7 linked regions of the Homo sapiens genome follow. The protein of the gene in region 4 interacts with the protein of the main gene of each other region in a pairwise test. Each region holds a gene or a part of one and is shown on either strand. Other genes may lie near its edges.

The links.
Region 1: the proteins of NLRP12 (region 4) and DROSHA interact in a two-hybrid assay, tested with the Homo sapiens proteins (one large-scale study listed by IntAct).
Region 2: the proteins of NLRP12 (region 4) and PTPRE interact in a two-hybrid assay, tested with the Homo sapiens proteins (one large-scale study listed by IntAct).
Region 3: the proteins of NLRP12 (region 4) and ALPL interact in a two-hybrid assay, tested with the Homo sapiens proteins (one large-scale study listed by IntAct).
Region 5: the proteins of NLRP12 (region 4) and SOD2 interact in a two-hybrid assay, tested with the Homo sapiens proteins (one large-scale study listed by IntAct).
Region 6: the proteins of NLRP12 (region 4) and FBN2 interact in a two-hybrid assay, tested with the Homo sapiens proteins (one large-scale study listed by IntAct).
Region 7: the proteins of NLRP12 (region 4) and LRRC42 interact in a two-hybrid assay, tested with the Homo sapiens proteins (one large-scale study listed by IntAct).

What each region holds. Positions count from the first base shown.
Region 1 is NC_000005.10:31,511,412-31,515,553, reverse strand, and holds part of DROSHA (ribonuclease 3), read left to right. Parts: coding exon 1-100; intron 101-334; coding exon 335-566; intron 567-4,142. UniProt on the Homo sapiens protein: Ribonuclease III double-stranded (ds) RNA-specific endoribonuclease that is involved in the initial step of microRNA (miRNA) biogenesis.
Region 2 is NC_000010.11:127,909,783-127,913,924, reverse strand, and holds part of PTPRE (receptor-type tyrosine-protein phosphatase epsilon isoform 1 precursor), read right to left. Parts: intron 1-4,142. UniProt on the Homo sapiens protein: Isoform 1 plays a critical role in signaling transduction pathways and phosphoprotein network topology in red blood cells. May play a role in osteoclast formation and function.
Region 3 is NC_000001.11:21,557,281-21,561,422, forward strand, and holds part of ALPL (alkaline phosphatase, tissue-nonspecific isozyme isoform 1 preproprotein), read left to right. Parts: intron 1-3,345; coding exon 3,346-3,465; intron 3,466-3,816; coding exon 3,817-3,932; intron 3,933-4,142. UniProt on the Homo sapiens protein: Alkaline phosphatase that metabolizes various phosphate compounds and plays a key role in skeletal mineralization and adaptive thermogenesis.
Region 4 is NC_000019.10:53,806,923-53,811,064, reverse strand, and holds part of NLRP12 (NACHT, LRR and PYD domains-containing protein 12), read left to right. Parts: coding exon 1-1,478; intron 1,479-3,396; coding exon of another isoform or gene 3,397-3,399; coding exon 3,400-3,570; intron 3,571-4,142. UniProt on the Homo sapiens protein: Plays an essential role as an potent mitigator of inflammation. Primarily expressed in dendritic cells and macrophages, inhibits both canonical and non-canonical NF-kappa-B and ERK activation pathways.
Region 5 is NC_000006.12:159,679,341-159,683,482, reverse strand, and holds part of SOD2 (superoxide dismutase [Mn], mitochondrial isoform A precursor), read left to right. Parts: intron 1-844; coding exon 845-990; 3' UTR 991-4,142. UniProt on the Homo sapiens protein: Destroys superoxide anion radicals which are normally produced within the cells and which are toxic to biological systems.
Region 6 is NC_000005.10:128,331,604-128,335,745, reverse strand, and holds part of FBN2 (fibrillin-2 precursor), read left to right. Parts: intron 1-168; coding exon 169-291; intron 292-450; coding exon 451-576; intron 577-901; coding exon 902-1,027; intron 1,028-2,711; coding exon 2,712-2,834; intron 2,835-4,142.
Region 7 is NC_000001.11:53,959,216-53,963,357, reverse strand, and holds part of LRRC42 (leucine-rich repeat-containing protein 42), read right to left. Parts: intron 3,003-4,142; coding exon 2,884-3,002; intron 1,325-2,883; coding exon 1,236-1,324; intron 1,063-1,235; coding exon 949-1,062; intron 1-948.

The sequences.
Region 1 (4,142 bases), on a different chromosome or scaffold from region 4:
TATCGGTTGTTCCTGAACCTGCTGGATGCACACCAGAATTACCTGGGGAGATTATTAAAAATACAGATTCTTGGGCCCCACCCCTGGAGATTGTGAATCAGTAAGTAGATCTGGGGTGGGGCCTGGGAATTTGTATTTTTAAACAAGTAAACTTCAGGTGATTCTGATGCCACCAGACTGGTATTTGGGAGTCACTGGTTTAACAAAAGTACACACGGTGATTTGGCATGGTATTCATATTTTAGGTGAAAAATGCACCAAATAGGTGAAATAGAATAGTTTTTACAGTGGAAGAGTATTTTTAATAATTAACCTCCTTTGCCCTCTTTTGAAGTCGCTCCCCAAGTAGGGAGAAGAAGAGAGCTCGTTGGGAGGAAGAAAAAGACCGTTGGAGTGACAACCAGAGTTCTGGCAAAGACAAGAACTATACCTCAATCAAGGAAAAAGAGCCCGAGGAGACCATGCCTGACAAGAATGAGGAGGAAGAAGAAGAACTTCTTAAGCCTGTGTGGATTCGATGCACTCATTCAGAAAACTACTACTCCAGTGACCCCATGGATCAGGTGGTAGGTCTGAAGTAGCAGACAAGCTGTAGACTAGGGCTTCTCGGCGTTGTCACTATTGGCCTTTGGGGCTGGATAAATTCTTGATTGTGGGGACTGCCCTATGCATTGTAGGATGTTTAGCGGCATCTCTGGGCTCTACCTGTTAGATGCCAGTAGTACCCCTCCCCAGTTGTGGTTACCGAAAATGTCTTCAAATATTGCCAAATGTCCCCTGGGGGGAAAAGATCACCCCCAGTTGAGAATCACTGTTACAGACAAAAGCCGTTTTAAAAAGCTAAAAGCCAAGAGTGCAGTAGGTTAATTAAAATATCTTTTTATAATGCATTTTTATTTATTTATTTTTGAGACAGGGTCTCGCTCTGTCACCCAGGCTGGAGTGCAGTGGCACCATCGTGGCTCACTGCAGCCTTGATCTTCCAGGCTCAAGTGATTCTCCCACTTCAGCCTCCTGAGTAGCTGGAACTACGGGGCACGTGCCACCATGACTGGCTAATTTTTTTTTATTTTTTAGTAGAGATGAGGTCATACTATGTTGCCCACTCTGGTCTCGAACTCCTGAGCTCAAGCAATCCTCCTGCCTTGGCCTCCCAAAGTGCTGGGATTACAGGTGTGAGCCACTGTGCCCAGCCTATTCTACATTTTTAATGATACTGGTAGTCTCAGTACTGGTGGTTTCATAAGCTTTCACATGTAACTAGTTTATGCAGTTTGTAGTGTGTATGTGTATGTGTGTGTGTGTGTGTGTGTGTGTGTGTGTGTTTTCTCCAAAATGAAAAATAAGGAAGAATTTGAGTTTGTCTCTTCGAAGTGTATCCTTGACCAAAAGAGCACCAACCCTACGAAGTTGCCCATGCATATTGGCTAGTTTTGCAGAAAGGGAGAGCCATTGTCACCCTTAATGGGCTGGAGGGAGGACTCCTAGAGCACATGCTGCCAGGGCCGGGGCGCCTGTGGTGCTACAGCCGGCGTGCTCATTGCCATGACAGACTCCACCACTATTTCTACATGCTCACTTCTCTTTTCTTTCTTCCATCTCCATTTTATTTTCTGTCACTGTCACCTTTTTGCTCTCTCTTCCCCTCTTCCCCCTAGGCGTTATGCCTCCATCCTGTTAGGCATATTTGCCACAGAGTAGGCATGTTGTAATGTTCATTGATTAAATGAATGAGTGGACATCTCATTCATTTAATTAATGAACTCGTGCAGATTTCGGGCATGAAAAGTTGCAGATGTTAGATTTAGTGTATGGGATTAGATAAGAGATAAGAGAGAGTTGTGTTATTTGGAATTTTGTGAAAATAGCTTCTATTTGGACTCGTATCTGTGGGGAGCTTGAAAGGAGATTTCTGTGTTTTTGGAAACAAAGGATTTGAGAAGTCTCTCATAGTGGTGTGATATTTTATTTGATAAATTAGAGCAGGCTTTTAAGTCATAGTTGATGTGGTACAGGGAAGGGAAAGCTCACATACTGTGCACTTTACGGTGCCTGAATGTTATTCCATGCTTCTCATGTTGTCTTAGTTGACCCTGAAAACACCCCTGGCAAGAAGGTGGTTCTGTCCGTTAGAAATGCTGCTAGGAGTAATAACACCTGACTAAGTGGGACTTAAACAAGCTGGGTTTGTTCTTCTCATAATAAGGTACCTGGAGGGAGGCCATGGCTGGTGTTCACTGAGTGGCTCAGTGATGGCAGGCCCTGCTGTCTTCCTGAGCATCTTCCACAGTTGCAGGATGATGCAGGACTAGCAGGCCTCAGGTCCTTACACACCCGCATCCTCACACGCAGGATGCAGAGGGCATGTTGGGTGAGCATTCTTCTAGTGTCTTGCCCGAGCTCTCCTTTCATCCCTTGACTCCCCTTCCATCCCTTTACCAGAGCCATGTGACATGCCTACCCCAGGGATTCATTTTTCCTTACTGCCATGACAGAGTTCCACAAATGGCATGGCTTGAAACCGCACACATTTGTCATCTCACAGCTTGGGAGGTCAGAAGTCCAGCATGGGCCTCACTGGCTCCATCAGGATGTCAGCAGGTCTGTGCTCCTTTATGGAGGCTCTGGAGAAAATCTGTTTTCTTGCTCATTCAGGTTGCTGGCAGAGTTCAGTTGCTTGTGTCTGGAGGACAGAGGACCTTGTGTCCTTGTTGGCTGTCAGGTGTGGGCACTTCTTGGTTCCTCCAGGCCATGTGCATTCCTTGACTTGTGGATCCCTTCCTCTGTCTTCGAAGCCAGCAATGGTGGTCGAGTCCTTCTCGTGTTTTGAATATCTCTTGCCTCTTTTTCTGTTGTATCTCTGACCCCTGTTGGCAAAGGTTCCCTGATTTTAAGGATTCCTGTTCTAAGATTGGGTCCACCCAGCTGCAAATCCTTTTTGCCATGTAAGTTAACATATATATTTAATTTCTGGGGATTAGGACATGGACATCTTTGGGAGGGGCTGGTGGCTCAGCCTACCTTCCCAGAGATCAGGAGTTCTCTTCTCCAAATCTTACAGAATCCTGCTTCTATTAGGAAGAAGGGAAGAATGGCTGCCATAGGTGTTATTATTCTTAAAACAATAAAGATGAAGACACTGAAGTTCAGGGAGTTTAAACAGGCAGGGCTGGTTGTTTTTTATTACATCGTTATGAGTATATTAAAACTCCAGTGTAGGAGGAAGACTGATAAACTCAAAAGGCTGACATTTGCCTTTGAGTTTTGTCGTCTGTGTGGTGCAGAGAAGGTGGTGAGAATGTCAAAGCTATACCGGCATCGCCACTCCCAACAATGAGATGGGGCCTGAATTATCCCCTCTTCTGGGTACCAGATTTTATGATTTGCCTTAATTTTACATTTGACAGGTCTGGTTTTTACATTTTAAGGCTACTAAGTCAGAGTGTGGAGATGTAAAGTGATTTTCAACCTGGAAATTGAGTGAGGAAAAGTGGAAAATTTTCTCTAGGAATCTGTTGCAGAGTCCCGTGTTTGTGGTATGTGTTTGTGTGTGTGTGAGAGAGAGTGTGTGCATGTTTATGTCCTCGTGTTTAAGGCATGAGAGTGTGTGTGTGTGTGTGTGCGTGTGTGTGAGAGAGAGAGAGAGGGGATATATAGGATATTTCTTATTGCTCGATGGATTGATATAGGAGAAGATAGGTTATCAGTGATTTTCAGTAGGAAGTGTACATTCCCTATGAGGGTATTTGATGTCAGTTGTCATGATTCTCTGAGGGTCATGATTTTTTAAAAAATGTCATATTAATAGGGCATAGATGAACTGTTCTAATGTTTCTTTTCTGTTTTTTTTTTTTTAGATGAGGTCTCTCTATGTCACCCAGGCTAGAGTATAGTGGCACAGTCATAGTCATAGCTCACTGCATCCTCCAACTCTTGGGCTCAAACAGTTCTCCTGCCTTAGCCTCCCAGGTAGCACAGGCACACACCACCTGGCTAATTTTTTTCTTTTTCATAGAGGTGGGGTCTTGCTATGTTGCCCAGGCTGGTCTTGAACTCCTGGCCTCGAGCAATCCTCCTGCCTCTGCCTCCCAAAGTTGCTAGGATTACAGGCGTGAGCCAGCACGCCTGGCCTGTTCTAATGT
Region 2 (4,142 bases), on a different chromosome or scaffold from region 4:
AACAGAATAAAAAGCTTTACCCCATGACAAGGATTTCAGACCAAAAGGCTGGTGGATGAGGTGGGGGCAGGGTAAAGAGGAGAGTCCCAGGGTCGGACATCAAATTGTGGAAGTAGGTGTCCACCTCTGAGGCCAGCCTCTTAATAAACTGGAGAAGAAAGGAAGGCTGGAGCTCCCTAGAGTTTCACCGGGAACCTGCCTGGACAGGAGCTTCCATTTCGTCTGGGCTGTGCTTGGTGGGTGCGTTCCCGACCCTCAGAGCGCCCTTGTGCATGTTAGCCGAGGAGTCAGGGCCAAGCCTGTGGACAGCAAACCAGTCTGCACCGCAGACCTATGAAAGTCCTACTGTGGAGACACAGCCTGAAAAATGCCAATGCCAAGTCCTTCTGGAGTGAGAGGACGCCAAAATAAAAGGACTTAGTACAGAGGTCATTTAAAATAATACACTGTAATCAAGTAGCTATGTGATAGGACATTTAAAAATCTCAGTTGAGAAGAAAGATGGAACTAATTTTCTCTCTAGTACAAAACTGGTGACTAATGTTCAGCTGGAAATGTCCAAACAGATTTAGGGACATTAATAACCAAAAATTATGTTTGTGCATTTATTGAATAGGAATTAAATGACTTGCCTTGAGGACAAAGCGACTGTGGCAGAGGAGAAGTCAGGGCTCACATCATCTCAGGCCTTTGATTCCGGTCCCCTGGGCCCTTGCCTTGTGTGAGACCGCTGGCCCTTTGGTGATCATGGGGCCAGGCCTCTGCGTACCACCTCCACCGATCCCCGTGCAGCTGCCTTGGCGGCATCATGCTCCCCACCGTAAAGACTTGGGCTCACACTGGGCCAGGGGAAGTCCCTTGCCTTGTCCAGAGCCTCAGTCTCATGGGCCCCCATCTGATCCCAGTCATTCTGCTCCTAAGTCCTTTCCCTGAGCCCCAGGCTGTGTCACCTCCCTTGAAAATAAAGCCCCGTGGCTTCCACTTGCTGCTGGTATTCAGACAGAGTAAAATCATGGCAGGGAAGGCCTCCGCCACTTGGCCTCCTCCACTGCTACCTGGACAGGCTCCTACTCAGTTCTATTACCTTCATCCATCCATCTCTCCATGTCACATACATGCACAGAGTGAGCTCTGAGCTCCAGGCATTGTGGGACTGGCTGTCCATCCCTGGGAGCTGACGACAGAGTCATGTACCTGCCCAGGGCGCTCACACCAAATGCTATTGTTCCCATGCTAGCCCTTCCATTGGATCAAATGTAGTGTAGCTGGCACCCAGACCTGGGATCCAAACAAGTTTTCCTATCAATTCTTTACTCTCCACCCAACAAACACTAACATCAAAGCACCTGCCCAAAACACGTTTGGTTTTTAGCACATAACTAAGAATCTTTTTTTTTTCTTCAAACATTTCCCTACTCCCTGCTGGACTTTATATTTGTTTTTGGGAGAAAGATTTCTCTGCCCCTTTTGTTACTTGTTACAATATACATAATGGACCGGATTAACTGAACATTCTTGATTGCATTTGAAAGATATTTTTAAAAACAGATGCCCTTTTAAAATATTTTATCTGGCCCCTATTTCATTGGGAATCAATATAAAAGGATATGTTTATTTTTCTGAAATATATTGTTAAGAATTTGTATTTCTTAAGCTCAATCAAAGCCTCTGAAGTATTCATACAGTTGAAAGAAAGATGTGGGGCCCACATTTCTGGCTGTGAGCAGGGTGTTGTTAACAGTTCAAAGGCTGGGCACCACATCAATACTCCCCACATGGAACACCTGGACAGGGCAGACCATGATGGGTATGACTGGGAAAACAGCAGCCAGAGCCCAGGGAAGAAAAGGAGGCTGCCTTCATAATCCCCAAACCAGGGGTCTCCTAGCCCACATCCAGCAGCGAACGACCCCGCAACTGCTCATCTGTGTCTGCTCAAGGATTGGTAACATTCGACCAACTCTTATTGCCTCAGGTATGGCTGATCTAAAATCCCAGCCATCTAAAATATCATCCAGCACTCTGCTTTTGGTGAAAAAAAAAAATCCTAGTGACAAAATAATGAGAAGTTAATCCTCCAAAATAAACTCTTGATATGTCTAGGGCCAGTACCTAAAATTGGCAGCACGCTACATGTACCCACGGGCCTCTCCTCACTCTCTCTAGATTTGGTGTCCAGAGCAGAGAGACACGTGGCCCAAATGCTGAGCCAAGAAACAGGAGGCCTCCCTGCCTGGGATCCAGCCTTGTACGGAGTCAGCAGCCCTTCCTGCCCAGTGGTGGGGAAGGGGTGAAATCGGGCGGAAGTGCAGCAGCTGTGAGGGGCCCAGAGATGGCCCAGGACAGCCCCTTTCTTTGGATAAGCAAAGTGAAGTTCTGAGAGTTTCTAGGGTAGGCCACAGCTTCCTAGCTTTATGTTCTGGTCTAGAAGCTGCTCTCTTACCCTGATTCCAGACACCTGATTCTAGGCCACACTGCTTCTCAGGGGTGGGTTTCGTTTGCTTTTGCAGTGCCTCACACCCAGCCTGGTTTAATTCAGGCCACGAGCCTGGTTAATGTGCACAGCAAGTTGCATTTCTGCCTCATCGATCACTGGAGTCAATGGTGCATATTGAAGAATGAATGCCTTCATGGTAAGTGATAACATTATGGGATTAAAATACTTAATCACGCAAAATTTACATAATAATCATTTAGATTGCCATGCAAAAATTATCTGGCATGCCACACCACACTGATTTGACCTACTGATCTGGATGATGCACAAAAGGTATCTATCTATTTGTATGGTTTTTGGCTTGGTTCATGTATTCATTCAAACTTCATTGATTCTTTTTTTTTCCATGACAGGGTCTTTCTCTGTCAACCAGGCTGGAGTGCAGTTGTGTGAACATGGCTCACTGCAGCCCTGACCTCCCAGGCTCAGATGTTTCTCTCACCTCAGCCTCCTGAGTAGCTGGGACTACAGGTGTGCACCACCATGCCCATCTAATTTTTTTGTGTTTTTGGTACAGAGTTCCATCATGTTGCCTATGCCGGTCTGGAATTCCTGGCCTCAAGTGATCTGCGTGCTTCAGCCTCCCAAAGTGCTGGGATTACAGGTGTGAACCATTGCACCCGGCCTCAAACTTCACTGATTCTTACATGTGCAATGCACAGCATTAGATGTTGTAGGGGAAAGATAACCACAGTTTACTGCATACCAGCCAAGCGGCCTGTCAATTATATGTATCCTATGTCCCCCTCACAGCAGCAGCCCTGGGAAGTAGCGATGATTACTCCCATTCTAGAGAACACTGAAGCCTGCATTTTGAGTCATTTAGCCAAGGTCACACCAGAGTCAGAACTTGACTGACTGAACCCAAAGTACATGCTCTCAGAGACACACCCTCCACCCTTAAAGCACTGGCTGCCTAGTGGAGGAGATAAACTACTTGAGCAAGTGAACTGGAAATCAAAGTCAAGTCCAGTAAGTGCTTTAGGACAGGCAGAAATAACGTTCTATGGAACCAAGAGTAAGAGAGATTCCTCTCAGGTAGGGGAGCCAGGAAGGCTTTGTGGAGACTGAGACTTTTGAGGTGGGCCTTGAGGTATGGGTAGGAGTTTCTAAGATGGAAATAAAGGGGAAGGAGGCTGAGAGCAGGGAGCTGAGTCTTGGGATCTGGAAAGCTTTGGGAGCTTTATGGAAGACAAAGCCATTGGGTCAGTAGGAAGAAAGCCAAAAGAAAAACTAGAGATGTTCTTAGAACTGTAGTTTTCTTCCCAAGTGATATTCAAATATTAAGAAGGCCAGTCTTTACCCTAATGGATACATTCATTCCTGCTTTGGCAACAGAACTTCTGTGAGGGTGACTCAAATGTTATAAATGAAAAAGACTTGTCTAGCAAGGGAATACGGGGCAGCTTCGATCCTGTTCCCTCCCTGCTCCCAAGCCTGCCTCCCTGGGAGGTCACTTGGGGTGTCTCTGGTCCAAGCCAGCAGTCATTTTAGCAGGTGAGTCCAGCATCTCCAGAAGGGCTGGCCACATGAGCCCTGGATGGACCATGCCCATCCACATCGGCAAAAATGTGTGGCTGCCTATCAACCATACAACATCCACGCAACAGACACACACTTGCTCCATCAGCACATGCGCTTCGGG
Region 3 (4,142 bases), on a different chromosome or scaffold from region 4:
GTCACAGTGTCTGGCAAGGAGTGGATGCTCAGTGAATGTTGGTCTCTTCTCTTAGGACGGCTGTATTTCAGCAGATGAGGAGATGGGGTGCAGTGGGGCACTGAGCCTGAGCTGCTGAGCTCTCAGGCCATTGCTGCGTCTGAGACCTCGTGGTGCCATTTGCATCCCTGGGGGACCAAGGTCACTCTGGGACGGGGTCCCTGCCTTCTCAGCACTTACAGCCCACCTGGGTGAAAGATGAACTAATGGATGAAAAGGGAAAAGGTGAAAAAGTGACAACATGAAAAATCTTCAAACGTTCAGCAGTTCAACTTTTTGTATCTGCTGTTGCCAGGCTGGAGTGCAGTGGCACAATCATGGCTTACTGTAGCCTCAAACTCCTGGCCTCAAGCAGTCCTCCCACCATGGCCTCCAAAAGTGCTGGGATTACAGGATGAGCCACTTCTTCAGCCTTCTTTTTTTTCTTCAATTAGATATAACTTACAGAAAAGGGCACCGATCTTAAATACATAGCCTGAAAAAATTTTGACATATATTTATACCCATGTAACCGCCACCCAGATCAAGACAGAACATTTCTGGTTGTGAGGCATCTGTGGGCTTCCCTGTGCCAACCCCCTCCCAAAGCCAGAGGAGATGCCCAGGCTTACATTGGCCACCAGAGACTTGCTTTGCCTGTTTTGAGCCTCATATAAATGGAATCATATAGTATGTACCGATCAGTGCCCTTTCCCTGGCATTCTATCGTGAGCATTAGCACATATCATTTAGTAGTCTCCAAAAACAATAGCCTCTTGGAATCCAGTTGTCCAGAGCCATTGTTGCTTAAACCAGACTCCAAACCCTTCTCAGGGACAGGCCCTGGGTGGCTCTGGTGAAAAAGACAAGGACTCTGCCCTTGTGGGACTCCAGTCTAGAGAGAACAAGCACTCAACGGAGCAGGGGACCCGGTGGCAGAGGCTGGGCTGAACAAGGGCAACAGGTGTGGGGCGGGCTGATGTCAGCCCAGCCCTGGGACCTCCAAGCTGTTAAGTCAGGTACAGGTTGTAGCGGGTCAGGGTGGGTAGAAGGTCTTCACCACCCAGTGGCACCCAACTGGCCAAAGAGGCTCTATGACCAACAGCACCGTGGTGTGTTTTGAGGAAGGCAGGAGGGAGGCTGGAACCAGCCTGGGCCTGGGGGACCTCTGAGGAAAACCTCTGGCCCCGGCCTTGCCCAGACTTTATCTCATGTCATCCTAGAACTGCCTGTGGATAGCTACGGGTGTCCCATTTCCTGGGGCAGAAACTCTTGTCCAAAGGCACCCTGTCGGGCAGAAGGGCCAAGGTGCTCCCAATTCCCAGTGGGGACTGCGTGGGGACATCTGAAATTGATGCCCTCAGCAGACACTTCCAGAAGAGAGAGGGTGGACCTGGGGCTGTCGGGATGAGGGTAGTGGGCTGAGGGATTGGGGTGGTGGTGACGTAAGGGGAGGCCTCTTGGGGAGGGGCGTGGGGTGTGCTTGGGTCCAAAGCTAGAGGTGCACTGCAGCACCCTGGCGGCTCCTCGCCTGTGCTCTGCGCCTATGCTAGGCTGGGGCAGAGCCACGGCGACGCGTGAGTTTCCGGTTCTCCCACTTGGGGCCCTAATCTCAGGCTCTCCATTTCCTAATGTGGAGGAGACACTGGTGCCCACCTGCCAAGGCAGTTGAGAGGAATAAGAGAAGCTGTGTGGGGGGTCCCTGGCATCTCGCCCAGAGCCAGTGCGTGTGTGAGGAAGGAGGGCTGTTCTTTACCCACGGCCACTCCGAGAGCCAGGCACGCGTCGGAGCTGGGCCAAAAGATGAGAATTGTGTCCCCAGCCCACGAACATGCTACACGGCCTTGGACAAGACCCTCCCATTCCTGATCTCTCCTCCCGTTCTGTGCAGTGGGAGGCCTTGAAAGAGGAAACCGCTAGGGAGCCTCCTCTCTAGGCTTCTGAGCAGATCTGATAGGGCCCTGGGACAGAGGGGAGCCCCGCAGACTCTGGGAGGGACTCCAGCTCCCATAGCCAGGGTCCTGGTCCAGCCCTGGAGACGGGATAATGGGGATGGGAGGCAACTTTTGAGCCTCTCCTGTGGGTCAGGTGTGTCACTTGCCTTATCCGGCCCAGTCCTTAGAGCGACCCTGAGGGGATGATGCCAGCAATGTCATTTAACAGGGGAAGAGACTGAGGCTGAGGGAGGTGACAGAGCTAGTACTTGGAGCAGCTGGGGGTTTTTTGTTTGTTTGTTTTTGAGACGGAGTCTAGCTCTGTCACCCAGGCTGGAGTGCAGTGGTATGATCTCAGCTCACTGCAACCTCCGCCTCCCGGGTTCAAGCAGTTCTCCTGCCTCAGCCTCCTGAGTAGCTGGGACTACAGGTGCACACTGCCACGCCCAGCTAATTTTTCATATTTCAGTAGAGACGGGATATCACCGTGTTGCCCAAGTTGGTCGCGAACTCCTGAGCTCAGGTGATCTGCCTGCCTCGGCCTTCCAAAGTGCTGGGATTACAGGCATGAGCCACCATGCCCAGCAGCTGGGGTTTTAATTGAGGTCTGTCTGGCACTAAAGCTGTGGATTGGTTGCTGGACACACACACACATGAGAAAGAGGGAGAGAGAAAGAAGTGTTCTTAGTTCTCATTTTATCTCAAAACCATAAAGCCCCAGCCAGAAGTCACTATCAGCCAAGAGGGATGGAGGGGGCGATGAGAGATGCAGAATGTCGTCCTTGATAACTAATCCTAACAAGAGTGAGATCACCTGGCTCCTTTAAATTTGACATATTAAGCAAAAGGCAAGCTTCGCTTTCCAGCACTGCTATTAAACCAAGTCAGGTTCCTGCTGAGCCTACTTTAATGAATAAGCTAAGCAGAGTTGATAATTGATGGCTGGCTATATCAGGGGACCCCTTCTGCTGGAAGGAGTTTGTTGAATAGGTTAAACATTACTCTCTTAATTGTGCTAGCACAATTCATTTGCTGCCTTAGCAGCTCATCTCCCTACTGGGTAGAAGGAATGAGCATGGGCTTTGGAGCGAAACCCAGCCCTGCCAGTGTCTGCCTGTGCTGTGTGGCCTTAGGCAAGTTGCTCGTTGTCTCTGAGCCTTGGTTTCTTCATTCTGAGATGTGAGGAGAAGACCCCAGGGTCCACAGGCTTTTCTGGAGGATCTGGATGGCACATATTTATAAACCACAGATGTGTTGTCTGGGTGGGCAACTATTGCACCCACCTCCAAGTTCAGGCATTCCAGCCTGAGCAATCAGAAGTGGGGGGATCTGTACGTCTGGAGATAGGAGGCTATCCTTACCCCGCCAAGTAACTGCCTCTCTCTGTGTTTAGAGAAAGAGAAAGACCCCAAGTACTGGCGAGACCAAGCGCAAGAGACACTGAAATATGCCCTGGAGCTTCAGAAGCTCAACACCAACGTGGCTAAGAATGTCATCATGTTCCTGGGAGATGGTGAGGCCCAGGGGCCTGTGGGAGGGGTGGAACAGGACACCTAGCTAGGAGCCCCGGGAGCCAGGCTGAGTTGAAGGGGGCTGTGTTGAAGGGGCTAGGGCTCTGGAGGAAGGGTGTTTAAAAGGATGAGGGGCCAGGCTGTGGATTCAAGAGGCCTGCTCTGCCAGACAGCCCCCTGAGGATCTGGGGGTGAAGGGAGAGAGGGGCTGCTCACTGACATTTACAGAGCCATGCCCAGTGCCAACTGCCCGAGCCTGCCTTGGTACCGAACTAGAGAGCTTCTGGGTACCCAAGCAGGCTGATTGGAGAGGCAGGAGCACGAGAGACTGAGGCCCCCACTCCCCACTGCAGGGATGGGTGTCTCCACAGTGACGGCTGCCCGCATCCTCAAGGGTCAGCTCCACCACAACCCTGGGGAGGAGACCAGGCTGGAGATGGACAAGTTCCCCTTCGTGGCCCTCTCCAAGGTGAGCCCCATCCCCAAGCCCAGTTCAGGTCTGTATATCCAGTATCCAGGTCGAGCATCTGAACATGACAGCAGCCAGAGGTCCCCTGACCCCCTGAGCCCCCTCCATGCCCAAGCCCACTCCCCACCTGGAGCAGCCACTGCCCTGACTTCTGACACCATAGCATCACTGTACCTGCTTGCGGGTGTGTGTTTAGAGAGAGGGTCTTGC
Region 4 (4,142 bases):
CTCTTTGAGCCAGACGAGGAGCGCCCCGAGCCACCGCGCACCGTGGTCATGCAAGGCGCGGCAGGGATAGGCAAGTCCATGCTGGCACACAAGGTGATGCTGGACTGGGCGGACGGGAAGCTCTTCCAAGGCAGATTTGATTATCTCTTCTACATCAACTGCAGGGAGATGAACCAGAGTGCCACGGAATGCAGCATGCAAGACCTCATCTTCAGCTGCTGGCCTGAGCCCAGCGCGCCTCTCCAGGAGCTCATCCGAGTTCCCGAGCGCCTCCTTTTCATCATCGACGGCTTCGATGAGCTCAAGCCTTCTTTCCACGATCCTCAGGGACCCTGGTGCCTCTGCTGGGAGGAGAAACGGCCCACGGAGCTGCTTCTTAACAGCTTAATTCGGAAGAAGCTGCTCCCTGAGCTATCTTTGCTCATCACCACACGGCCCACGGCTTTGGAGAAGCTCCACCGTCTGCTGGAGCACCCCAGGCATGTGGAGATCCTGGGCTTCTCTGAGGCAGAAAGGAAGGAATACTTCTACAAGTATTTCCACAATGCAGAGCAGGCGGGCCAAGTCTTCAATTACGTGAGGGACAACGAGCCTCTCTTCACCATGTGCTTCGTCCCCCTGGTGTGCTGGGTGGTGTGTACCTGCCTCCAGCAGCAGCTGGAGGGTGGGGGGCTGTTGAGACAGACGTCCAGGACCACCACTGCAGTGTACATGCTCTACCTGCTGAGTCTGATGCAACCCAAGCCGGGGGCCCCGCGCCTCCAGCCCCCACCCAACCAGAGAGGGTTGTGCTCCTTGGCGGCAGATGGGCTCTGGAATCAGAAAATCCTATTTGAGGAGCAGGACCTCCGGAAGCACGGCCTAGACGGGGAAGACGTCTCTGCCTTCCTCAACATGAACATCTTCCAGAAGGACATCAACTGTGAGAGGTACTACAGCTTCATCCACTTGAGTTTCCAGGAATTCTTTGCAGCTATGTACTATATCCTGGACGAGGGGGAGGGCGGGGCAGGCCCAGACCAGGACGTGACCAGGCTGTTGACCGAGTACGCGTTTTCTGAAAGGAGCTTCCTGGCACTCACCAGCCGCTTCCTGTTTGGACTCCTGAACGAGGAGACCAGGAGCCACCTGGAGAAGAGTCTCTGCTGGAAGGTCTCGCCGCACATCAAGATGGACCTGTTGCAGTGGATCCAAAGCAAAGCTCAGAGCGACGGCTCCACCCTGCAGCAGGGCTCCTTGGAGTTCTTCAGCTGCTTGTACGAGATCCAGGAGGAGGAGTTTATCCAGCAGGCCCTGAGCCACTTCCAGGTGATCGTGGTCAGCAACATTGCCTCCAAGATGGAGCACATGGTCTCCTCGTTCTGTCTGAAGCGCTGCAGGAGCGCCCAGGTGCTGCACTTGTATGGCGCCACCTACAGCGCGGACGGGGAAGACCGCGCGAGGTGCTCCGCAGGAGCGCACACGCTGTTGGTGCAGCTGTAAGTATCCCTGGGGTATCCCCTGGGGCTGCTTAGGTTCGTGTGTTTTTTTTTTTTTTTTTTTTTTTTGCTCTGTTGCCTAGGCTGGAGTACACTGGCGTGACCTCAGCTCACTGCAACCTCCGCCTCCCGGGTTCAAGAGATTCTCCTGCTTCAGCCTCCCAAGTAGCTGGGACTACAGGTGCACGCCACCACGCCCACCTAATTTTTGTATTTTTAGTAGAGACAGGGTTTCACCATGTTGGCCAGGGTGGTCTCGATCTCTTGACCTCGTGATCTGCCCGCCTTGGCCTCCCAAAGTGCTGGGATTACAGGCATGAGCCACTGCACCCGGCCCACGATTTTTTTTTTTTTTTTTTTTTAAACTAAGTCTCTCTTGGTCTCCTAGGCTGGTGTGCAGTGGCGCAATCTTGGCTCACTGCAGCCTCTGCCTCCCGGGTTCAAGCGATTCTCCTGCCTCAGCCTCCTGAGTAGCTGGGATTACAGGTGCCCATCACCATGCCAGGATAATTTTTGTATTTTTAGTGGAGATGGGGTTTCGCTGTGTTAGCCAGGCTGGTCTTGAACTCCTGACCTCAAGTGATCCACCCACCTTGGCCTTGAGGTTCATGCTCTTAACCAGTGCCTCTCAGCTGGGGGTGATTTTGCTCTGACATTTGGCGATGTTTGGAGACACGTTTTTGGTGGTCACAACTGGGAAGCAAATAATACTACTGACATCTAGTGGATAAAGGCCGGGAATGCTGCAAACATCCTACAGTACACAGGACAGTCCCTCTGGCCCCAAAGTGTCAATAGTGCCACAAAGACTAAACAACACCCATTGGGACTAAATTGAGGTCGATGTCTGGGAGAATTTATTCAATCAACAAATATTACTAAGTCCCTTTTTCTTGAGAGAGTGTGGCTCTGTCACCAAGGCTGGAGTGCAGGGGCACAATCTCAGCTCACTGCAACCTCCACCTTGCGTGTCTCAGCCTCCTGAGCAGCTGGGACCACAGGAGTGTGCCACCACACCCAGCTAATTTTTGTATTTTTTTAGTAGAGATGGGGTGTCACCATGTTGGCCAGGCTGGTCTCAAACTCTCGGCCTCAGCCTCCCAAAGTGCTGGGATTATAGGTGTGAGCCACCACACCCAGCCTCTATATCCCTTTTATCGGTGGACCCAACAATCTTCTGTAGACAGAAGACTGTGTGAATAAGCCAATGGTCCCAAGAGAGCACGCATCCTAATGAGAACGGAGACAGATAATAAAGAGGGAAACAAGTAAACCAACTATCAATGATTAGGAGCGTCAGATAGAGCCAGGTGCAGCCTGGACAACATGATGAGATCCCCATCTCTAAAAATATAAAATAAATTAGCTGGTCATGATGGTGCACACCTGTAGCCCCAGCTTCTCAGTAGGCTGAGGTGGGAGGATTGCTTAAGCCTGGGAGGTCAAGCCTACAGTGAGCCATGATCTCACCATGCACTCCAGCCTAGACAACAGGGCAAGGCCCTCTAAAAAAAAAAATGAAAAGATAGCATGCTTTGGCCGGATGTGGTGGCTCACGCCTGTAATCCCAGCACTTCAGGAGGTTGAGGCGGGCAGATCACCTGAGGTCAGGAGTACGAGATCAGCCTGGCCAACACGGTGAAACCCCATCTCTACTAAAAATACAAAATTAACTGGGCGTGGTGGCTCATGCCTGTAATCCCAGCTACTCTGGAGGCTGAGGCAGGAGAATCGCTTGAACCCAGGAGGCGGAGGTTGTGGTGAGCTGAGATTGCGCCATTGCACTCCAGCCTGGGCAACAAGAGCGAAACTCCGTCTCAAAAAAGGATAGCATGCTTCATAAACGGTGAAATGACATGCAAAGGCCATAGTTGTCAAGCACCAGTAACACCAGAGAGTGGCCTGTCTTTCCTTCAAGCAGACCAGAGAGGACCGTTCTGCTGGACGCCTACAGTGAACATCTGGCAGCGGCCCTGTGCACCAATCCAAACCTGATAGAGCTGTCTCTGTACCGAAATGCCCTGGGCAGCCGGGGGGTGAAGCTGCTCTGTCAAGGACTCAGACACCCCAACTGCAAACTTCAGAACCTGAGGTGAGTGCAGGCTGGTCTGGGCGTTTCAGGTGGTCCCCACCGTGGCCTCTCATGGGGATCAGTCACAAAGGTTCTATCACGGGATGGTGTATTCGTTGGCTACGGCTGCCATAAAAAAGTGTCACAAAGCCAGGTGCCGTGGCTCACGTCTGTAATCCCAGTATGTTGACAGGTGAAGGCGGGCAGATCACTTGAGGTCAGGAGTTTGAGACCAGCCTGGCCAACATGGCAAAATGCCATCTCTACAAAAAATACAAAAATCAGGAGGGTGTGGTGGCGGGCGCCTGTAATCCCAGCTGCTTGGGAGGCTGAGGCAGGAGAATCGCTTGAACCTGGGAGGCGGAGGTTGCAGTGAGCCGGGATTGTGCCACTGCACTCCAGCCTGGGTGATACGGTGAGACTCCATCTCAGGGGGGAAAAAAGTGCCAAAGACTGGGTGGCTTCACCACATAAATCTATTTTCTCAAGGCAGGTGGGGGGCTGCTGGAAGTCCAAGACAAGGAGTGGGCAGGTTAAGTTCTTCTGAGGCCTCTGTCCTGGGCCTGCAGATCACTGCCTTCTGTCTTCACATG
Region 5 (4,142 bases), on a different chromosome or scaffold from region 4:
GATGGAGTCTCACTCTGTTGCCCAGGCTGGAGTGCAGTGGCGCAATCTTGGCTCACTACAACTTCCGCCTCCCAGGTTCAAGCAATTCTCCTGCGTCAGCTTCCTGAGTAGCTGGGATTACAGGCGCCTGCCACCTCGCCAGGCTAATTTTTTGTATTTTTAGTAGAGGCGGGGTTTCACCATGTTGGCCAGGCTGGTCTCGAACGCCTGACCTCAAGAGATCTGCCTGCCTCGGCCTCCCAAAGTGCTGGGATTACAGGCCTGAGCCACTGCGCCCAGACCAAAAGTTTTTTTAAATGGATGTTTTACAGATAGAACTAAATTCTTCATTTACCTCACTTAATTTCTGAAAACACTGTGTCCTCCAACTGCTCTGTATTCCCAAAGATTAAAATTAGCCTTGGGGAGCAGAGCTGGTTCCTCGTAAACCCCTGTGAGTGCCCAGACCCTTTGGAGGAGGTTCTCAGTGGGCTTTTGCCTGCTCCCACAGATGTAACCCACCCTTCCTGCTGCTCCTAAGACCACCATGAGGAAGGCTGGGAATTGGCTCTTGAATTAATTTGTTGGTATTTTTAAGAATAGCTATTAAAGTACTGTTGTTAATTTTCCCAAGTCTATTTTATTGTTAGTATTTGTCACATTTTCTTTGTAAACAGTGAATTAAAAATATTTTATAGGAATATTCATTCTTATCTAGATTTCCTACTTATATAAAAAAACAAGTGAATGAGATTGTTACAAAGGGTAATTTTGTGTGAGTAGAATAATAAAAGTTGAAATTGAGAAGATGCAATGTTTTAGACTGAAACTGATGGTTGGTTTGTTTTCCCCTTCTTTCTAACAGGCCTTATTCCACTGCTGGGGATTGATGTGTGGGAGCACGCTTACTACCTTCAGTATAAAAATGTCAGGCCTGATTATCTAAAAGCTATTTGGAATGTAATCAACTGGGAGAATGTAACTGAAAGATACATGGCTTGCAAAAAGTAAACCACGATCGTTATGCTGAGTATGTTAAGCTCTTTATGACTGTTTTTGTAGTGGTATAGAGTACTGCAGAATACAGTAAGCTGCTCTATTGTAGCATTTCTTGATGTTGCTTAGTCACTTATTTCATAAACAACTTAATGTTCTGAATAATTTCTTACTAAACATTTTGTTATTGGGCAAGTGATTGAAAATAGTAAATGCTTTGTGTGATTGAATCTGATTGGACATTTTCTTCAGAGAGCTAAATTACAATTGTCATTTATAAAACCATCAAAAATATTCCATCCATATACTTTGGGGACTTGTAGGGATGCCTTTCTAGTCCTATTCTATTGCAGTTATAGAAAATCTAGTCTTTTGCCCCAGTTACTTAAAAATAAAATATTAACACTTTCCCAAGGGAAACACTCGGCTTTCTATAGAAAATTGCACTTTTTGTCGAGTAATCCTCTGCAGTGATACTTCTGGTAGATGTCACCCAGTGGTTTTTGTTAGGTCAAATGTTCCTGTATAGTTTTTGCAAATAGAGCTGTATACTGTTTAAATGTAGCAGGTGAACTGAACTGGGGTTTGCTCACCTGCACAGTAAAGGCAAACTTCAACAGCAAAACTGCAAAAAGGTGGTTTTTGCAGTAGGAGAAAGGAGGATGTTTATTTGCAGGGCGCCAAGCAAGGAGAATTGGGCAGCTCATGCTTGAGACCCAATCTCCATGATGACCTACAAGCTAGAGTATTTAAAGGCAGTGGTAAATTTCAGGAAAGCAGAAGTTAAAGGCAAAATTGTAAATCAGTCGAGATCGGGTGCCTTCAGGGTGGTATGGCTGTATACCAAAATTGTAAATCACTACATGAAGCTTATATATTGGTTTGGCCTGAAAGGTGAAGTGGGGTAGGCAGGGGGCGGGCTTACAGGTTATGGTGGATTCAAAGACTCCCTGATTTGTGATTGGTTAAGGAAGCAAAGCTTTGTCTAAAAACTTGGGGTCCGCAGAAAGGAACATTAAGGTCTGGCCAGGCCCCTCAGGAAGAAACTGAGAGCAAAGAATGGAGGTCAGAGTTTAGTCCCTGGTGTTCCCCCTTATCTGACGTCTGTGTGAATCCATTTGGTGGGGGTCTGGGTTTCTGAAAAGTAGCTCAGGGGCACGTGTTAAGGATGTCTCTAGGTGACTCTAACTTCCCTGGCTATTGTTTGAAACTGTTATGACCTTCTTGCTTATCAGCTTGCTGGTTTCCTTCTCGGGGCGAGCTGGGTGCCTGGAGTTTTCGGTGAAGGAAACTCAAGATTCTCCTTTATTTCTGTGCTTGTGGGAATCCCCCTGGCACACCCCAAAGAGGGGTCCCTGCTCCGTCTCACAGGGATCTTTTTGTATATTTGGCTTAGCATCATACATTTGCCATGTTGTTTCATCATCTGCCTAATTTACTGTTTTTGAATATTTCATTTGTTTCTAATTGTTACTACAGATAATGCTGGGGTGAGCAACTCTGTGTACATAGGTTTATCTCCTATTGGAATATTTTCTTTATATAGGCGTTTTTTTTTTTTCTTTTTTTTTGGAGACAGAGTCTTGCTCTGTTGCCCAGGCTGGAGTGCAGTGGCGCGACCGGAGCTCACTGCAACCTCCACTTCCCGGGTTCAAGTGATTGTCCCACCTCAGCCTCCTGAATAGCTGGGATTACAGGTGCATGCTACCATGCCTGGCTACTTTTTGTATTTTTAGCAGAGACAGGGTTTCACCATGTTGGCCAGGGTGGTCTCGAACTCCTGACCTCAAGTGATCCGTCTGGCTCAGCCTCCCAAAGTGCTGGGATTACAGGTGTGAGCCACTGCACCTGGCCTATATAGGCTTTTTTCTTAAACCTATTTAGTAATGTTTTCCCAAGTTTATTTTTTATTTTTAATTTTTTCCCCAAGTTTATTTTTCTATTTTTTTTTCATGGAAAAATGGGGTAACTTAGCAGTTTCAATATTGAAGACTGAAGTTTAAAAAAAATTTAAATTCAAGGTACTTTTAAAATTCAGTTAGAAAAGTAGGCTTTAAAAATTATTAGAGACAAGAGTACCAAAGCGGTGTGTGTATGTGTGTGTGTGTATGCATGCTTGTGGATTGGAAAAACTTTGGAGACTGATTACTTTTCATTATATATGTGTCACAGTGAAACAGCTTTTATGTGTCATGTAAGATTACTGCTTGCCTCTCTAAGGAAGGTCGTGACTGTTTAAATAGACGGGCAAGGTGGAACCTTTTGAAAGATGAGCTTTTGAATATAAGTTGTCTGCTAGATCATGGTTTGTATTGAACTAACAAGGTTTGCAGATCTGCTGACTTATATAAAGCTTTTTGATTCCTACTAAGCTTTAAGATTTAAAAAATGTTCAATGTTGAAATTTCTGTGGGGCTCTATTTTTGCTTTGGCTTTCTGGTGAGAGAGTGAGGAAGCATTCTTTCCTTCACTAAGTTTGTCTTTCTTGTCTTCTGGATAGATTGATTTTAAGAGACTAAGGGAATTTACAAACTAAAGATTTTAGTCATCTGGTGGAAAAGGAGACTTTAAGATTGTTTAGGGCTGGGCGGGGTGACTCACATCTGTAATCCCAGCACTTTGGGAGGCCAAGGCAGGCAGAACACTTGAAGGAGTTCAAGACCAGCGTGGCCAACGTGGTGAAACCCTGTCTCTACTAAAAATACAAAAATTGTTTAGCTCTGTTTTTCATAATAGAAATAGAAAAGGTAAAATTGCTTTTCTTCTGAAAAGAACAAGTATTGTTCATCCAAGAAGGGTTTTTGTGACTGAATCAGCAGTGCCTGCCCTAGTCATAGCTGTGCTTCAAAAACCTCAGCATGATTAGTGTTGGAGCAAAACAAGGAAGCAAAGCAAATACTGTTTTTGAAATTCTATCTGTTGCTTGAACTATTTTGTAATAATTAAACTTTGATGTTGAGAAATCACAACTTTATTGTACACTTCATTGCAACTTGAAATTCATGGTCTTAAAGTGAGATTTGAATTTCTATTGAGCGCCTTTAAAAAAGTAATACCAAACCATAAAGTTAAAATCTATGTATATTGAGTCATATCTAAAACCACGTATAAACATAAATTGTATTTCCTGTTTTAATTCCAGGGGAAGTACTGTTTGGGAAAGCTAT
Region 6 (4,142 bases), on a different chromosome or scaffold from region 4:
GGAATGCTGCCTAAAATGAAGGTGAAAGAACTAAGAAAGATAATGTTCAATCAACACACATAGTGGGGAGAAAAATTCAAAGCCACATTAGCATTATCTGTTTAAAAAGAAGAAAACTCCTTTTAAGGAAGCAGACCTGACAATGTGGTTGCAATGCTGTTTTCACAGATATTGATGAATGTATGATAATGAACGGAGGCTGTGACACCCAGTGCACAAATTCAGAGGGAAGCTACGAATGCAGCTGCAGTGAGGGTTATGCCCTGATGCCAGATGGGAGATCGTGTGCAGGTATAGAAAGGAAAACACACAGGTTTTGTACATCTAACTAATTTTTTCTTGAAAATATGGCTCCAGATATTACCAAGTGGAACCAGATAGAAAACAAAAACATTTGAGATTGATGAACGACATTTTTATTTTCATTTGATGCTAATTTTGTATCATCAGACATTGATGAATGTGAAAACAATCCTGATATCTGTGATGGCGGCCAGTGTACCAACATTCCTGGAGAGTATCGCTGCCTCTGCTATGATGGCTTCATGGCTTCCATGGACATGAAAACATGCATTGGTGGGTATCATAAGAAAGGATAAACATTTATACACACACATGCACACACACCCACATGCACACACAAGCGTGATAAAAGGAAGGCTTTTTCTGTTGTTATTTTAAAAATTCAAATCATTTTACTAGAACTGTAAAATCTCAGGAAGAATTACTTTTAAAAATGTCTAAAGGCAGGTTGTATATTTATCTATAACACGATGATTTGCGGATGGATTATATTTTAGATCTTGCCTGTGTATTTCAGTATTATGCTATTCAGTGTAGAAGATAGCTTTTAAATTACTGTGATGAGCACATACTAAGATATTGAAAATAAATTTTCTAGATGTCAATGAATGTGACCTAAATTCAAATATCTGCATGTTTGGGGAATGTGAGAACACAAAGGGATCCTTCATTTGCCACTGTCAGCTGGGTTACTCAGTGAAGAAGGGGACCACAGGATGTACAGGTAGGTTTCAAGCTTGTGTTCTCTGTATTTCAACTTCTCAGATGTCAAAGGCCAACTTTCAACATCATTTGTTCTCTGGCATCTCTTAGAGCGGTTACCTGCCACCAGACTGTGACTGTGTGTGTGATGAGTGTGTGACCTATAGGATGTGTGATGGATTTGGCTGGTCTCTGTGGTAGCACGCTGTCTGAGCCACCCACCGTGGGGCTGGCTGTGGGCTGTGACAGAGTGAGTGAGTAGGAGTACAGTCTGGTTCCCATGGCCCTGACCACTTATGGTCGTTCATGCAGCATCAGTCACTTTCTGAGTATGACTGCTGCCCGCTTGGAAGACATTCATGTACAAAGAGCACCAAAAGACCCGAGGATCCCGGTTGCCATTTACCTCTGCACTTCTTTTAAACTAGTAAAAATTAATCAAGTTTCATTGAGACTCTTTCCCTTTCTTCCTTTCTCCCATCTTTTCCTTTCTTGTTTGCTCTTCTGTTTGCTTTTGTCTTCTCTTCTCTGTGCCCAAATTGCCTTTCTCTTTTTCCTCTCTTCACTTTCCTTCTTTGCTCACTTTGCTCACTTTGTCTTTTGTTCCCTTTCTCTACTACTACTACTAACTAGTTTTAGCCTTTTGCATGCAGGTGGGGCTAGGATGTGCCGGGGTCAAGGTTTTGGATCACGTATTCCTCAGTGCACAATTTAAGACTTATGTGTGATATTTTTTCAAGGCAGGTGGTGGAAGACTTAAGAGTCCAACCCAGCCCTTAAGCTGACCCCTCCAGTAAGGGGCAGATTATAAAAGAAGGTGTTCTTTGCATGTTCACCACTGACAGGGTTGATGTGAAGCCAGTAGTGTGTGTGTGTGTGTGTGTGTGTGTGTGTGTGTGTGATTTCAGCATCTATAATATGTAATCGTTGAACTAGATAGAACACATTACTATTTATAGTCAAGAAAGCTTTGGAGAACCAAATCTACATAGGTTATACATACATATATAGGGATATGTGTGTGTGTATACAGACACACAAATACACACACACACACACGCACACACACACACTGGCGAAAGCATCTGGCTACTTTCCAGATAACATTCCCAGTGAATATTTTTCTATAATCTCAAATAAGTAGAAGAAATAAAAATATACACCTAAATGAATAGTTTTTTTTAAATTCTGTAAAATATTTATATTGATTTTTTAAATGACAAATGATCATGTAATTTTAAAGAGAATAAACTATTACTTTTTTTAAAAAGTTAGATTCTTATCTTCATGAAAAATATGTAATAAATATCAATAGGAAGGAATAGCACCATCTATTATTGGAAATAAGATTTCTCTTGATCTGTAATCGAATGTCCTCTTTATGGTGTTGTGTCTGAATCTGGGCAGGGAAGAAGGCCCCAGGATAATACACATACCTGCCGGGGAGCAACACTGCTGTGTCTCTCTCTCTTCTACTGGAAAGTGGCTGACAGTTGTTTCTAGGGAAGAACTTGTTTTATTAGGATCATGAATTTTCCAAGTCCTCTTGGAGCCTACAAAAATTAAAAATAAAAGTTAGTTAGGCTACTCTTTTCTCCATACGGTTGCATCTTTACTTTAAAATGTTACCTATACAAAAATATACTTGGAAGTAGAATTAATTAGTTTGTATTTTGATTTTCTTCTTATGAATTATGGTTTATCAGATGTGGATGAGTGTGAAATTGGTGCTCATAACTGCGACATGCATGCCTCATGTCTGAATATCCCAGGAAGCTTCAAGTGTAGCTGCAGAGAAGGCTGGATTGGAAACGGCATCAAGTGTATTGGTGAGTTTGCAAATGTAAATATCCTTTGCTAAGGCACAAATTTTTAAAGGCTCTTTTTTGCATGGTTGTAGAATCATGCTCTTCACTTTTATTAATTCCTTTATAAAAAGGTTATCTTAGTTGCAAGATAATTCCTGCCTAAGGGTGTCCTTTACCCTTAATATAAATTATCAAAATTTCAACAGTATGCCTTGGCACCTGTTTTTTAATGTGTTTTTGTTCAGTAAAAATTGATATGCAGCTGGTGATCCAAACACAGCTGTATGATGAAAAATGACTAGTATGTTCTTCCAATCTTTTCAAAGAAGTAATCAGTGAGATTTAAAATCCAGTGGAATAAATGGAGAGCAATGAAAAGGTTTTTTCAGATAACCTAATTTTTTAGTAAGTCATCAATACCACCATCTTATTAGAAAATAGAATTCTTCTTACAGGAAATTGTAAATGCTTTCTTGCATTCCAAGAGGTCTTATTTGAAGAAAAAAAATAGGCAAATTCTCCAAGTTTTATGGTTCTTGAGCCAGAGTCTAAGAAGTCTTTTATATCTGAGAGGGAAGGGACTAGAATATACCCTGAGTGTCATTCACAGTTTTGTGTAATATGCTTAGTGTTTCACATGCCTTACAATAAAGCATTTTTCCAACTAGTAAGAATTTCTAGGTCAATTTAAAACAGAAAAGAAAGCAAGCTAAACTCACTTCCCCCTGATAACTTACAAAAAATATATAGGCCCTCAGTAAGGATTAAAGAATAGCTTTAAGATCTCTTACCAAAACTATAAGTTAATTTGAATATATACTTTTTTATCCATTCAAATATTTCATACTTATCAAAAGTTTATGTACTGACTATAGAATTTGAAGTATCAGAGCTTCCAAATAACTGCTAAATAACATCCTGCAATGGCTTAGTGAAGTGCCAGCCTCTAGTCCAGCCATCTTTCCAGGGTTACTATCATAACTTTTCAACCATACCCTCATTCCCATTTTCGTAGCCCCATGTGCCTACTCTTTTTCTCTTTTTGGCCTCCCATTTTTATGCTTCTTGTCCATCTGTCATTTTGGCCAACTATTGCAAAACAGCCTGCCTCTGATACAAGACATTCAGCTGTGTCCAGCCTCCTGTGCTCCAGGATGTCACCCAAATTCATCCTCTCCTTTACATCTTCTTTCCCCTACTCTAGTCCCAACCAGAGAGAGTTTCTGTCTCTCTCACATGCCCTCGCTCTTCGTGTCTGCTGAATGCTAAAAGAATCCCCTCTGGTATGTTGGCTTGTTCCCTCTCTGGCCCTCCTGCAATCCATTCTCC
Region 7 (4,142 bases), on a different chromosome or scaffold from region 4:
CCTGTCCCACATCCACTGGATGCATCTAGGTCTCATACAGCACTAGAAACTTTGTCTGGCAATGCACCATGATAATTATTTCATCATGCATGTTCTGGACCAAGCTCAGTGTGCTTCTGAAACACGACTCAGCAGTCTCCCTGCTTACCTGTGGAGAGGTGACGCTACAATCCAGCAGGTGGATAGTTCTACCATCCTGCATTATGGCTTGGAGCTAAGAGGGGATCCAGGACAGTTTGGTGGGTCCTCTAGGCCTCCACCAAGAAACATTGGTTAAAAGCATCTAAGGGAGAAAGGCCCCAGCCACAGGGAAGGTGGCATCTACTTGTGCTGTCCTACTTGGTTACTTTCACACTTCCAACTTACATAGAAGACTCTGAATCTCACTTAAGTCTGTACTCTACCAAGTGAAGAAAGACCATCAAGACAAAAGGAAGTCAAAGTAAAGTTCTCTCACTGTTAAGACTCAGTGAGAGAAGGACAAGAAAGACACCTCCTCACTAAGGCTGTGGGAGGTAAGAAACTTTCCCAAAACAAAGAGAAGAATCATATTTGAATCTTTATTTGCATGACACCGGAGTTTATTCTCTCTCCTGTATATACACACTACTAAGAGAATCTGTCCTTCTGAAGTTGGGTCAGACTGCTTTTTTGTGTAGCAAGCCAGAATTCACTTATTTTCTGAGTCATCTGTAAGATGACATTTTCTCCTAGGTCCAGTAAAGATAAGGCACAACCTAGTGACCAGAGCATGAGATATAAGGTCTGGCGCCAATTCTTTAAGCACGTGGGCCAGTTATAGCCCATCAGTGTCTCCAATTTGACATGAAGATGACAATTTAACCAAGGACTACCAAGTGGATTACTGTTTATTCAATGTGTTGGATAAGACACTTGGAATTAAGATGAAAAGCTGCATCAACCGCAAGGAAGAAAAATCTGGAGTACCTGGTCAGCCCAGCCCTCTGTCTTGCAGTTACTATGATCAAATTCCTTCAAAGGCACTTTGGAGTGAACAAGGCCTATGTGGGTCTGGAGCTTGTGCTTGACGGTTTTGATGTCCTAGTGAGGCAGAGACAGATCAGAAATGCAAATACATTTGGTTAATTCTTACTTGTTTTCAGTAGTAAATAAAGACCATCATAAATACCAGCCCTTTCTAAATACCAATTAGCACAGGCAAAATATCAAATTGTTGAGTCTAGAAAAATGAGAGAAGGAACCAAAAGTCTTACCTTGAGCCCTGTCCCAGAGATATCTAAGCAGTTTAGTTTCCTAAAAGAAAAGAGGTATCCAATGCCTGCATCTGTGATCTCAGGGTTACCTAGATGTCAAAAACAACGTAGCATTCTGTCACAATATAAATGCTGTTAAAATGACAACCAAAAATAAGCTCAGAAAAACGTCCGGGCAATGATAAACTATAAAACATTTGAGTTGGCAAACTTTTCAAAGTAAATTAAATACAGAGGTCTGATCTTTACTATTTGTAATATAAAAGAGCCACACTCAATGATCCCTAAAGATCCTTTACAGCTCTTACTTTCTAGGAGTTGGGGGTGAGCAGAAAAATAAATGAACCAGGTAGTTATCCCAAAGGGTTTAATTTGGAACCATATGAAAACATACATAAACATGTATTACAATGGTTTATCATACTTTATTCATGGCCATTTCACCTCCAAAGTAAAAGCATTTATTTATTTTAAAAAGATATTCAAGGGAACTTAGACACAGATACTATCACCACTCTTACCAACTTGCATTATTTTCAGAATCCTTTCTTATATATTACTTTCTCACGTCAGAGAGTACTACACTTAGCATTGAGTCCTCAAGGCCATAAGCGTAGTGCCTGGCACATTGTAGATGCTCAAAAAATATTTGTTGAATGAATACACTTCCCTGGGAGGTAGGGAGGACATTCATTATTTCTTTTTTTTTTTTGAGACAGAGTCTTGCTCTGTCACCCAGGCTGGAGTGAGTGACGCAATCTTGGCTCACTTGCAAGCTCCGCCTCCCGGATTCACGCCATTCTCCTGCCTCAGCCTCCCGAGTAGCTGGGACTACAGGTGCCGGCCACCACGCCCAGCTGATTTTTTGTATCTTTTTAGTAGAGACGGGGTTTCACTGTGTTAGCCAGGATGGTCTTGATCTCCTGACCTCGTGATCTGCCCGCCTCGGCCTCCCAAAGTGCTGGGATTACAGGCGTGAGCCACCGCGCCCAGCCAGGACATTCATTATTATCCTCATTTTACAAAGGCCAAAACCAATGCTCAAAGTGGTTAAATAACTGGTCTGAAGGTATATAACTGGTAGTAAAAGTGGTAGACCAAGAAGGGTCCTCAGACCTCAAACCACTGCTCTTTCTATTCTTTTGGCATCATACTGTCCTGCCATAGAGTCAATGGATGCTCGGTTAAATTGTAAATGATCTCTGTCAACCTCTTACCATTGGAGTCAATATCTGGTTAATCTGAGTAAATTATCCGTTCATCCAGCTTTTCATCAGGCAAACACTGATAAAAAAGGACCTAGCTGACAGACACCAAGGATCAGAGACTCAAGGAAAATAAAGATGAGTCAAATGTCCTTTAAGTATGCAATGAATATGATGAAAGGTGTCTCTGTTTGCACACAGCGAGTGGCATGGATGAATGTGTAAGGGTTTTTCCTACCCTAAAGAGGTGGTATGTGCTAGAAAAATCAGTTGGCCAGGAGTCAAGAGTCTTTGGCCTCAATCCTGTTCTGCCACCAAGTTTCTATGGCACCGAGGAAAGTCACCTTTCCTTTCTCACCTCTAAAATGAAGAGGAAGAACTACATGATCTCTAAGGCCATTCTTCCAACATTAAAATAATCTATAATTTCGAAGAAAACTTACATGATAAGTCTAATAATGTTAGATTCTCAAGGCCTCTTTTCATCACTCGAACTGGTGCTGTCATCTTCCGCACCCCAGCATCAGATAAACAATTATCCTTCAGGTGGAGCTGAGTTACACTAGGGAAACAAAGTACATACATAAATTACTCAAAGAGAGTTTGAGACAATCTAGGTATAAAAACATGCTTTCAACATTTTCATTTAAAAATATAACATATCCTCTACCTCTTGCTATTTCATACCCAATGCATTTAACAAAGTTAAGCTCTTTTGGGCTGGGCATGGTGGCTCATGCTTGTAATGTCAGCACTTTGGAAGACTGAGGCTGGAGGATCACTTGGGCCCAGGAGTTAGAGACCCCATCCCTGCAAGAAATTTTAAAAAATTAGCTAGCCAAGGTGCTGTGTGCCTGTGGTCCCAGCTACTTGGGAGGCTGAGGCAGGAAGATGGCTTCAACCAAGGATTTCAAAGCTGCAGTGAGCTATGATTGCACCACTGCACTCCAGCCTAGGTGACAGAACATGACCCTGCCTAACAAAAAAAAAAAAAAAAAGATTTTTTGGTGCCATTTCAGTTACCAAGTGAGAGTTAATTTAGTGTCATGCAGTACTAATTTCAGAGGGCAGAGGGCACTAAAGGTATATTGTTGAATGAGGTAAATGGACTTCCACTAGGGGATAAATATACTTTAAAACAAAAGCTGCTTTTCTGACAAATGGTGTGAAAATCAAAAACATTCTAACTATGTCAGGAAAGTCTGCTAAAGAACTCCTATGAGAATTATTTTTGCAAAGCAAACAATCCTCTAAATTTAACCAGCTTTATCAATCTAGATTTTCAGTTTGGGTTAATAAGGTATACCCATAATCCAATCCATCTGATGCTAAGCTGGAATTGGTATATTAATATGCTCCGTTTTCACATAAGAAATCTGAGCCTTGATGCTGGCTAGCCTCACACAACAGCATCTTTTTATGGGGCAGTAGGTAGGTGTCACTGTCAGAAGCAGGCCTCAGGTAGTAGGTTAGACCTAGGTTTGTAATGCTGTTGTTCTTCTGGGTGTTTATAAAACCACAGAGGGATCCATCTGTCCTCCTCTTTGCTGGCCAGAATAACCTGAGATCAGTCAGACTATTTGTGAATGGTATGAACTGGGCCATTTCTTTAAATCATGACTCCTGAAAAGAATTTCTTTGGCTGTCTTTAATAGTTCATTTTCTTTATAATTGTAGCTCATTGATAGTTAAAGTAGCAAAC